2 separate regions of the Homo sapiens genome follow, and region 1 is linked to region 2. The links come from fine-mapping of genetic effects on gene expression. A gene starts in region 2. The other region holds a variant in brackets. All regions are shown on one strand. Distances are from middle to middle.

Region 1 (5,382 bases), 35 kb after region 2:
CCCATTTTTGCAGTTCATAGTTTATTAAGGAGGAAAGAATAAGCCCTGTCATAATTAGTTGAAAATACATTTTGAGGCTGTATAAAAAGAATTATAAACATGGCACATCTGAGGGCAAGTCTTTTCAAGCCTCTGTGGCGATGCACTATTCCCTGGAGCCTTTAGAGGGCAGCAGCACACTGGCTGACTCCAGCGGATTTCAGAGAGGCGAACTCCCGACCAGAACCTTCCTCCTGGTCACCATGCCAAAGGTTGATTTGCCAGGCTCTGGCCTCTCAGTCTCTTTCTTTTCAGTTCTCATTCTCTCTCTCTCTCTCTCTCTCTCTCTCATTCTCTCTCTCTCTCTCTCATTTTCTCTCTCTCTCTCTCTCCAACCCCTTCCTCCTCTCTCTCTGTTAAAATTATACACTCTGATGAAGTCGCCCCTCAACCGGAAAATGAAAGCTCCAATGAAAAAGTTAGACAAGCCAACAACAACAAAGAAAGAAACCAGGGAAAAAGGAAAAGGGGGCTGGTGACAGGGAAGGACTTAAGAATAAGAAAAGGGCAGATGTTTCGCAAATATATGCAAAGCAAAACTGGGTGTACCCTGAACACTTCCACAGAGAAACAGACCAATCATTGTGCACTTCCTCCCGCCACACTGGTGGAGCTCTGCATTCAAAAAAAGAAAAAAAAAAAAGGCAAAAAAGCGTGGCCGCAGGCACCCGCCTTTCAACGGTCAGTTCTGACATTCTGACTGAACATCTCTCAATTGTCCAAGGAGAACAAAAACATTTTCATCTCCTCACTGCAAACATTTCTGTTATGAGAAAAGGCTGCTTCAAGAATTGGGAGTGTGTTTTAAGGAGACTGGCGGCCGAGTTAGCCAGCAGAGCCTTCTGGTTTTTAACTCTCATTGTGCTGGCCCCAGCAAGAAGTTTTAGGCTGAAACATAGCAGTGAGTAAGGCTGTGGAGGATGTTGGCTCTTTCCTAACTAGACCATATTGTATGTGGAAAGAAATATGCATTAAAACATATTGATGATATGGTAGGTATTAAGCATGTTAAATGCATGGAAATTAACCAGATCGGCGGCATTTGATGTATATATTTCACACTCTTTTGCACATATTGCACACATACAGTGATGGCAATGCTTTCTGCAACATATGGAAAAATAAATATTTTATCTGTGTGAGCTCTTAGCAGTCTCCAGGGTGTTGAGAGTGCTCTCTTCTTTCACCCTATCCCAATTTTCTCTCTTCACTGGGCTCCCACCCTCTCTTGCACGTTAATGTGCCTTTTACTTATCAGCTTGGTCTTTTCCTATCTGGTAAGTAATGTGCCTGTTACTTATCAGATAGGAAAAAATTAGTTGGAACCTCCTATTGGCTCATGATAATTTAGACCAGTGATGCCTCCCCCAATCTTACTGGAGTCGTAACAATTTCCCTACTCTTTTCCCCAACAATACATTAAATAGGCTTAGTATCTGGGCAGGAGAGAAAGGGTAGGTGGTAACAAACCACCCCAATAAGGGTGGTAGCGGAACTGCGCTCCACTACCTATTAGCTGTATGTCCTGGGTAGATTACTCCGCATCTCTGAGCCTCATTTTCCTCATCTGTAAAATGGGAATAATAATACCTACCGCTTAGGGTTATTGTGAGGAACAAATGAGATAAGCCATGTAAAGTGATTTGCCTTGTGCTGGCACATGGTAAGAGCTCAATAATGGTAGTTCCTCTCATAGGGATTGTTAGTTCTGTGATATTCATCATGTTAGCTTTAAGAAGACATTTCCGGGCAAGGGGTGGTAGCTCATGCCTGTAATCCCAGTACTTTGGGAAGTCGAGGCGGGCGGATCACGAGGTCAAGTGATCGAGACAATCCTGGCCAACATGGTGAAATCCTGTCTCTACCAAAAATTCAAAAATTAGCTGGGCATGGTGGTGCATGCCTGTAGTCCCAGCTACTCAGGAGGCTGAGGCAGGAGAATTGCTTGAACCCGGGAGTGCAGAGGTTGCAGTGAGCCGAGATGGCGCCACTGCACTGCAGCCTGGAGCAAGAAAAAAACAAAAGAAAAAGAAGACATTTCCCTTCATTTCAGTAATCTGTTTAGATATCTAGATTTTGGGTAGGGGCAAATGGATTGTTATTGTAGCAAAGGCAGAAACAATGTTAGGACCAGCAATCTCTTCCTCAACATTTGATCTTGCTGTATACTTCCTGACATCTCCTTTCTGCTCACATGTTTGTCATTGCTGTGGCTACACTACACCATGAGCTCCTTGAAGCTGAGGGTTGAGCAAGCTGCACTTAGCCTATAGAAGCCCATCAAGCCTGGACACTATGGTCTATTCATTGAGACCAACCTATGGGACTCTGGCTTATCGTGTTTTCTTGCAATTTATCATTTCTCTACCTGGTCTGATGTCCTCACATCAATTTAAGATATTTTAGTGATTAAACACATTTTATTTTCTCAATCTTATTTTTTTTAACCTTGGCAGGGCTGATTTATAATTTTTTTTTCAGTATAATTTCCTCTTAACTGTATCAGTCAGGATCCTGGCAAAAATAGATGGCACATGCAAAGTTTTTAGCTAAAGAGGATTTAATGAAAAAACTGTATTTGGAGCTGCAGATGAGGTTAAGGGACCTCAAGAGAGATAGCACCAGGTACTAGCAATAGTAGAGACTGCCAGGTACTAGCAGTAGTGGAAAGCTTTAAACCATTTAAACTGAAGGGGCAAGTAAAATGGTGATGAATTCTGAGTCCAGTCAGAATTGGAGTTGGGAAGGAGGGCTGAACTAACACATTTCCTGACCTCTCTCTTCCCCCACTTTCACATCTCCTGCTGATGTCTCCTTTTGGCCAAATTCAAAGGGAAGCCCAAGGACAAGAGAGCCTGGGTAATGTAGTCCAGAAGGCCAGTCTTCTGGGTCACACATCAGGGCAAAAGAATGGTTCT[G/A]GGGTTTTTTTGGGGGTAGAATGGGGTGGCAAGACTAATCAACATATGTGTTCTTCTCTCTTATACTTTCAATTATACTTTCTGGAAGGAAAGACAGAACAAAATAAAATAGGTTCTGTCTTAGCTTCCATGTACCTATTATGTCGAATTGCCATTCACAGAGCAAGAAAAGAGAATGCTGCTCAGCCGAGCAGGGATTTTTGTTTGTTTTGCTTGCTGCCATATTCCTAGTTCCTAGAACAGTGTCTGGCACATAGTAAATGGTCAGCAAATTTTAAATGACTGAGTAAATATACTCACCTCTGCCGTGACAGACTTTATATATATATCATCTCATTGACTTATCACAATAATCTGGTTAAGTAGGCAGGGCCACTGAGCATTATTGTGCAGGTGGTATGGGGGGGGTGGGTAGGTATTAAAATTTAATATGTGCCTCCCCAACCCACTTCCAAGCCTTGTGACTAGGCCCGAAGCATTGTCAACCCACCAGAAGAGATATACTTCTGTAAATGATTCACATTTTAATTTTTTATCCTCTTTATTGATTTTTGCACCTAGCAAGTTTCTGTTTTATTATTATTATTTCTCTTTTATGCATTGGAAAGCCAAGTTTCTGAATAGCAAAGACTGCAAAGATTATAACCCAGTCTGTCCATTCTCTAGGGCCCATGAGAAGTAAAAGCAGGCACTGGCATTCTGCACAGATGAAATACTTCCTACGACAGGAATACATGCTCACTTGTGGACTTCTCTGTAATCTGTAGGCAACATCAGCTCCTGATTTCTAGGTCTGGATCTGGGTTCTCTGTAGCACAGGAAGGTAAGAGTGATAAGAACTCTTTTCCCTCTTAAAGGATATAGAAACTTTTAAACCCATCTGCATCATAGTAAGGCTGTGTTATCTGTATCAGCATAGTTACTCTGTGATGAAGAAAAACTCAGAAAACTATCCAGATGTGGGAATTTCTCGGGTATTCCTTGCACTTGAACTTAAGGATGAATGAAGGTATATACAAGTAAGTTCCTTGTGTGGGTGTGGACTGAAGAAACTATGTTTGATCTTCTGTCATGTCTTTAGTCCCCAGTAACTCAGTCCTATTAGTACTATAGAACACATTCCCCTCCGGGAAAGGCAGGCCTGTCTATCACCTACACAGCAGCCCCCATCAACTATGATTCAGTTGACTGGAAGCATTAAAGGTAAAAAAGCAACACAAAATAAAGCAAAACTCTGGCTTCATCCCTTTAGGTTTGATTTATACCAGAATAGCTAAAGACATAGAAATATGAATGTAAATATCCTACCTGAAGCCTAAGAGGGATGTTAGTCTCCCAGGTTTAGCGTTTTCCAGTAACATAGAAGTCTGTAAAACACCATCCCATTACCTGCCTCATAACATATAGGAAAACTTGTGAATATAACAACTAGTTATTGTTTTAAAATGTGTAATTAAGTTACTTTGCATGCAGAACTTCTAAATAATTCAAATGACTGGCTTTTCTATTGGAAAATAGCATATATTCATCTGTTATTTCAGCAATGATTAATGAATACTTGATATCAAACTTTCATCAGTATTTTCCCATAGGTATCATATCCCCTACCCCAAATTATTTCTGTACTTTTCCTTGCAAGGTCTCTACTTCTCCTACATAAATGCCTTGCATGGCGGGAACTAAATCAACTACACAGACCCATACATCCAGAGAGCAGAGGTGAGCTGGATACAAGTGGCTTAGAGATGTGGTGGAAGGAGGCCAGAGCTCCAAGGGAAGGGCAGCAAGGAGACAACAGCATGGGTTGCAGCTCAGACAACAGGTAAATAAAACCAAGCAAAGCTGCTGGTCACAGATTTGACCAGGGTGGCAAGAAATGACAAGCTACCATGAGATTCAACAGTGGCACGGAAGGATGATGAGAAGCAAACAGATTAGGAGAAGCTGCCACCACCGTACATAGAGGCACAGATGACCAAGCAGAACAGCACCAGTCCCTGCAAGGTGTGCTCAGATACAGCTCAGCACAGCCATCTGGCCAGGAGGGAATGATAATGCACATGGTGTGCACTGCAGCCGGGAAGTTGAGAACCGCTGTGGGCACCTCAGGACTGAGTCTGGTTACCCTGCTGATCCAAGAAATGAAGCCATCTAAAATTTTGCCTGCTTTCACAATTTTCTGTGTGTGTGTGTGTGTATTAAACAAAGTGAACTAAGAAGCCTTTTATTGGAGACATAATGTACTCACAGTAGTTTCAAAATCAATGGTGTCACTCTTCAGGTAAATTACTCCAAGGCTTGGGCCTAGTGCAGATGTTCATTGGGGCAGGGAGCAGAGAGCGGCTGCATCTAGATCAGACAAAAAACAAAAATAAGGTTGTTAAATGAACAGGTGATGGTGATGGCAATTATTTATTTTGATAGG
Region 2 (5,382 bases):
TCTAGGTGACATCACAATCGCTTATGTGCTCACTTATATGGAGGCACATCCATGGAATGCCCAATTCTATGGGAATTCCATATCTCTGTACCACTATGGAGCTATGAAAAAGGATTGGCTGAGAGATCAGAAGATCTTAGCTCTGGAATCATAGAATCCAGGGATGAAACATGATCTTGCCCATCTTGATGACTGAATCCTGTGTACAAAATCCCTAAAAATGTTCATCCATTCTCTCCTTGAATGCGTCTAATTACAGAAACTCACTCCATTTAAAGGCAGTCTATCTGATATTAGAGCAGATCTGATTGTTAACAAAATTTTTCTTTTATTTTGTGGAAAGGATCTCCTGATAGCATCCAATCATTGGTCTAGTTCCACCTTTTGGAGCCAAACTATACAAACTGAATGTCTCCTCCTCTTAACCATCTTAATAATAGCTACCACTTATAGAGCACTTATTATATGCTTGGAAGTACTCTAAAGACTTCACATGTATTAATTTATTCTCAAAACAGCACTATAAGGAAGGCGTATCACGATTATTCTCATTTTATACACAAGGAAACTGAAGTATAGACAAGTTAAGTAATTTTTCCAAGGCGACAAGGTTTAGTAGTAGCTAAGCCTGAATTTACACCCAGGCCATCTGGCTGGGTGTAAGAGCTCAAGCTCTTCCTGACTACAGTATGCTGCCTCTGAAACACAAATACTTGAATATGGCTTATATAATGACCTGAGTCTTCTCTTCTGCAGTCTGGACATCCCTAGGACATCCCTTCTCCATAAAGGGTTCCTGTGACGGTGTCTCTTGGTGGCAGGGTGCTTTGTTCTTATGATGGGAGGAACACAGTTGGGGTTTCTAGAAGAGGCTTGTGGTGGGGTCTGTTTAAAATCTGAAAGATGATCCCAAACCTTCCCTTCTACCTGCTCTCTTACCTTGCCTTCCCACAGCCCCCTCAGCCCCTGCTGCCAGGCCTCCAGGTGGGGTGACACTCACCTGTGTGTACGAACATGTGCTTGACGTAGTTCTGTTTGGCGGTGAAAGTCTTGTTGCAGAGAGTGCACTCATAAGGCTTTTTTTCGCCTTGCCCACTGGCTGTGCTGTGGCCTGCGGATGAGGCCAGGGGCTGTGGCGCTGGCAGCTGTGCAGTAAAGGTCGACAGACCGGGCTGGGACACTGTCACAAACTGGGTCTGCTGGCCTGCCAGGGGCTGTGGCAGGCTGAAGAGGAAAGGCTTGGGGCCACTGCCCGCGGGCTGGGTAGTGAAGAGGGCTGGCAGGTAGGTGTTGCCAGCTGTGCCAATGACCTGCGTGTTGCTGGTCAAGGTCAGAGGCATCCTCAGGTTGCTGGTGAGGGTTTCTGTCTGGCGTAAGTAGAGCTGGGTACTTGGCAATGGCTGCCCGATGGACGTGTTGACCGAAGGCTGTTGTAGGACGCTCTTGTCGGAGCTGTTGCTGACAGTGATAACAGTGCTGTCCATCTCCACTTCATTGCTTCTCTCCGGAGAGGAAGCACCTGTTTCTAGCTGGTTTGTCTGCGGACCACCCTCAGCGGGGGCTTCTGCAGCCTGCTCGGGTTGGGTGGGTTCAGCCTGGCTGTCCCGCGCCGCCCCAGGCCCAAACTGCTGCTCCACCGAGTCAGGCTCGGTGCCTATGGAGGAGCTGACGCCCGAGTCGAAGCTTTCACCTTTGGGCTCACTCTCGGTGCCCTCGGCCTGGTCTGTGTCTTCCGTGCACTCCTCGGATTCGTTGCGTTCCAGGATCTGCACCCTTTGCTGCCCGTAGTAGTCGTAATCGTCCTCCATCTCCTGCTTGATGTGGATGTTGCCCACTAGGGTCTGGATGCGCACAGGCCGGGGCTGCTTGCGGCAGTGCGTGGTCTCGGGGGTGGTGGACAGGTAGCGCTCCATCTGCTGCGAGCGCTCATGGATGCGTGTGATCCAGCTGGGGTCTTCCATGTGGTGGTCGCGGGGCAGGCCGAGCGCAGTCTCGTGGTGGCTGACCACTGCGCCGCTGTAAAAAGAGCGCTCGCCGCTGCCATTCTGCATGGAGCACGCGTAGAGTGCCGAGTAGATCCTGTCCACGCTGTGCTGTGGGTGGCTCTGCAGGTAGCCCGACTCCGTGTCGCTGCTCTGGCCTGACGTGCCTGACTCGGGAGTGCCCCGCGGCGTGTCCTGGCCCGAGTCCTGGATCCCCGGGAACACATCGCCCACGTTCTGTGACACGATGCGCGTGCACTCGTCGATGACTGTTTTGATCTGCAGGATGCTGGCGGCCGTGAGGATCTGCAGAGCTTCCGACTGCGAGACCCGTAGCACGCCGCTGTACATGAAGTCAATGAGCTTTTGCACTGACTGCACTGACACCACCGACGGGATCTCGATGTCGCTGTAGCCAAGCAGCAGTTTGTCCTGGAAGAAGGGGCTGCCGGCTGCCAGCACGCAGCGGTGTGCGCGCAGCATGCTCCCGTGGATGCGCACCGTTACGTCACAGAAGTGGCCACGGTTGCGCTGCTCGTTGAGGGTCTCGAGCACGGAATTGCTGAAGTTGTGAAGGTTGATGCTGTGAATGCGCTCGGTCATCCCCTTGCAACTGATGTCACCTGCAGCATGTCAACGCAGACACAAAACAGGGCATGGGTCAGATCTAGCTGGTTGCATTCCTAACACCTAGGTTTCAGGTGAGTAATGCTCATGGCTCCTAGAAGCACTGCCCTTACATACGCAAGTGGGGAGATGGACAGGCTGCGGCATACAAGCTGTAGGTACGATGACCTGAGGGAAAAGGACCTTGAATTTTGCTCCAATTCCGGCCTTTAGTGCCGCAGCCATTTTGGGTATCCATATTAACTCCCCAGAGCTTCGGCTGAGGTAGAGTGGCCTAATAACCAGATGATTTGTTTGCCTGCTATTCCTACAGCTTCAGCAAAGAACTGAAAGGCAAATGGAAGACTTGTTCTTATGGAACACTAAACCTCCACTTTATTTTTATTTATGTATTTATTTACTTTGCCTTCACTTTAGACAGGCCTAAGCCCAGATTCTTTGGGAAAGTTTACATTTCCCCCAACTTATCAAAGTCCCTTATTTTATTCATACACAGTGACCATATTCATAGTTAACAAATAAACCCCCTTCCTATTAAGTCATATGGCATATTATCAAAACCCACACCATGTATGCAAAAATTATTGGAAAATTCAACCCAGACTAAGATATCTACCAAACAGTCATGATCATGCTTTCCGGATGATGGATGGGCTACAGAAAGCAATCTGCTAGCTAAAGGGGCACTCCATGGCTGCTTTCTGTATCTACTCATTCTTCTTGTCATCTCTGACAACCTGTTTGAGCACTTTCTAGGGTGGTTGCATGTGATATGGAAGGTTTTCTGAATTTTCTGAGGCTTAATGAAGGAGGAATGTTAAAAAGGTCAGAGATGGCAGTTCTGACCCAGGAGACTACAGTACATTGGTGATCATATTTATTATGCAAACAGGGCACTTTCAAGAGTGAAAGAGAGCATTGTTAATAATTAGGCCAGGATAGCAGGAGTAAGCCAGAAGTGGGATATATGATCTCCTTGGGTAATAGGGTGCTTTATGTACTTGCCACAGGGAAGTATTAAACAGCTCCCAGGAGGAAGGCAACAGCTATGTGGAGGCTGCGGATAGCCTGACCCAGCGCCACCCTATAACGTAGGCTGTTATGGCAAGGGATACTATTGATAAGATTTGGATTCAGAATGAGAAAGAAAACAGGTGGCTACAGCAGTAGATCTTAGGGCTTTTCTATTTTTCTAGCTCATCTCTCAGATGGCTCTAGAGAATCCCCCTCCAAATAATTCTTCAATCAGATTCCCCATTCTTGCCTTTACAACTGAACAATCAGCTTGGGAAAGTGAAATAAGTGGGCTTTCAAAACCAAATGGCCCAAGCACTGATTGTTGGCCTGGACCCAAATCTCTCTGTCTTGTGAGAAGCCACCTGAGAGGTAACAGCCTGCAGATAGGAAGAAGGCCTACCTCCTCAAACTCTTTCCGCTCTACCTTGCGATAGAAGACTTGTTCAGGAAACTCTGAGTTCAATGAGCGTTTCTACCTTGCTTCACTCAATCACCCTCACATGGTATGAGCTTAACTTAATAAATGTTCAATAATACAATTTGCACTAATTTGTATAAGAGCATTCTTTCTCGTTCTGACTCTATCAGGTCTGTTATGTGCCTAAAATATTGTATTAGGCTACAGATTCCATCGTTTTTACTTATATAAGACAAGTTCTCTTTGCCAGATTAAAGAATTAAGGTAAATCCCCTGTAACCATGTGAACACAAAATATGGCCCCAAAAGAAGGCACAAATAACCCAGGAAGGGCTGTTCAGGAGCTCAATCAGCAGCAGACCAAATTTCAAGTTCTTGCTGAGTTCGCCATACATACATACCATGATAGTAATCACAAGATAACATTTTTTAGGGGTTACAGTTCTAACTGCTTTCTGTATATGATTTCATTTAATCTTACAGCAACCATGGGAAGTAGATGATATTATTCCCATTTTACAGATGAGGAAACTGAGGCCAGAGAAACTAAGAAACTTGCTCAAGTACACACAGGCAATTGCTGGTAGACTGGCATTTAAACCCAGGCAGTCTGGCTCTAGAGTTCACCCTCTTAACTGCTTCATTATATTGCATAGTTTGCCCTTTACTGAGGTCTGGCCCTTAGGGATCCACGGCTCTGTTGTAAAGCTGTGTGAAAGGCTTTGTCCACTACTACCTCCAGCTACTTCTATACCTATCCGTGATTTAGTGTGGCTTTTATGTTTTTAGGCTGTGATGCTTTGACATAGCCTCAGTTGTGTAACTTAAAGGACTTATTTTTTTAGATGTCACAGTGCAAGAAGTAAGACAACTAACTGGCACTATGGTTTAGGATTTTCTATATACAATTTTACTATAACCAAGGTCTCTTTCATTTAAGTAAAACAATAAGCAGTAAAACTGGTTGTGTCTGTGATCATCTCTGTGTAGGATGGATTTATTACAACATTTTTTTCTACACAAGTGAAAACACTCTTTAAACATACATTTGCTCATAACATTAGTTACAACAATAACACTAGAGATGTCATATATGACAGTTTTCTTTCAGATAATTCTGGGAAGTAGCCCTATCACAATTATCACAATAATTAGTATCCATGTAGTGTTTGACTGTGTATACAACTTTTTTACATGTAACATCTCATTTATTCCTTACAACAATCCTATGTGTGTTCTGAACAGGTTTTTTTTTGTTTTGTTTTGTTTGTTTTTTTTTTTTTTGACAGAGTCTTGCTCTGTTGCCCAGGCTGGAGTGCAGTGGCACAATCTCAGCTC

What was found.
Region 1: its variant is fine-mapped to the expression of ZBTB20-AS1 in whole blood (TOPMed, PIP 0.96).

Annotation. Positions count from the first base shown.
Region 1 is chr3:114,383,800-114,389,181 of GRCh38, forward strand. It overlaps ZBTB20 (zinc finger and BTB domain containing 20), which reads right to left. Exons shown (of 12, transcript NM_001348800.3): 8 at 5,206-5,306. ZBTB20-AS1 (ZBTB20 antisense RNA 1) reads left to right here. Exons shown (of 9, transcript NR_038993.1): 8 at 3,624-3,780; 9 at 4,597-5,179. Among named protein-coding and RNA genes, the nearest start is that of ZBTB20-AS1, 35 kb to the left of the region's middle. The variant G/A (reference allele first, on the strand shown) is at 2,958.
Region 2 is chr3:114,349,274-114,354,655 of GRCh38, forward strand. ZBTB20-AS1 (ZBTB20 antisense RNA 1) reads left to right here and starts at 2,538. Exons shown (of 9, transcript NR_038993.1): 1 at 2,538-2,683. It overlaps ZBTB20 (zinc finger and BTB domain containing 20), which reads right to left. Exons shown (of 12, transcript NM_001348800.3): 11 at 1,001-2,605.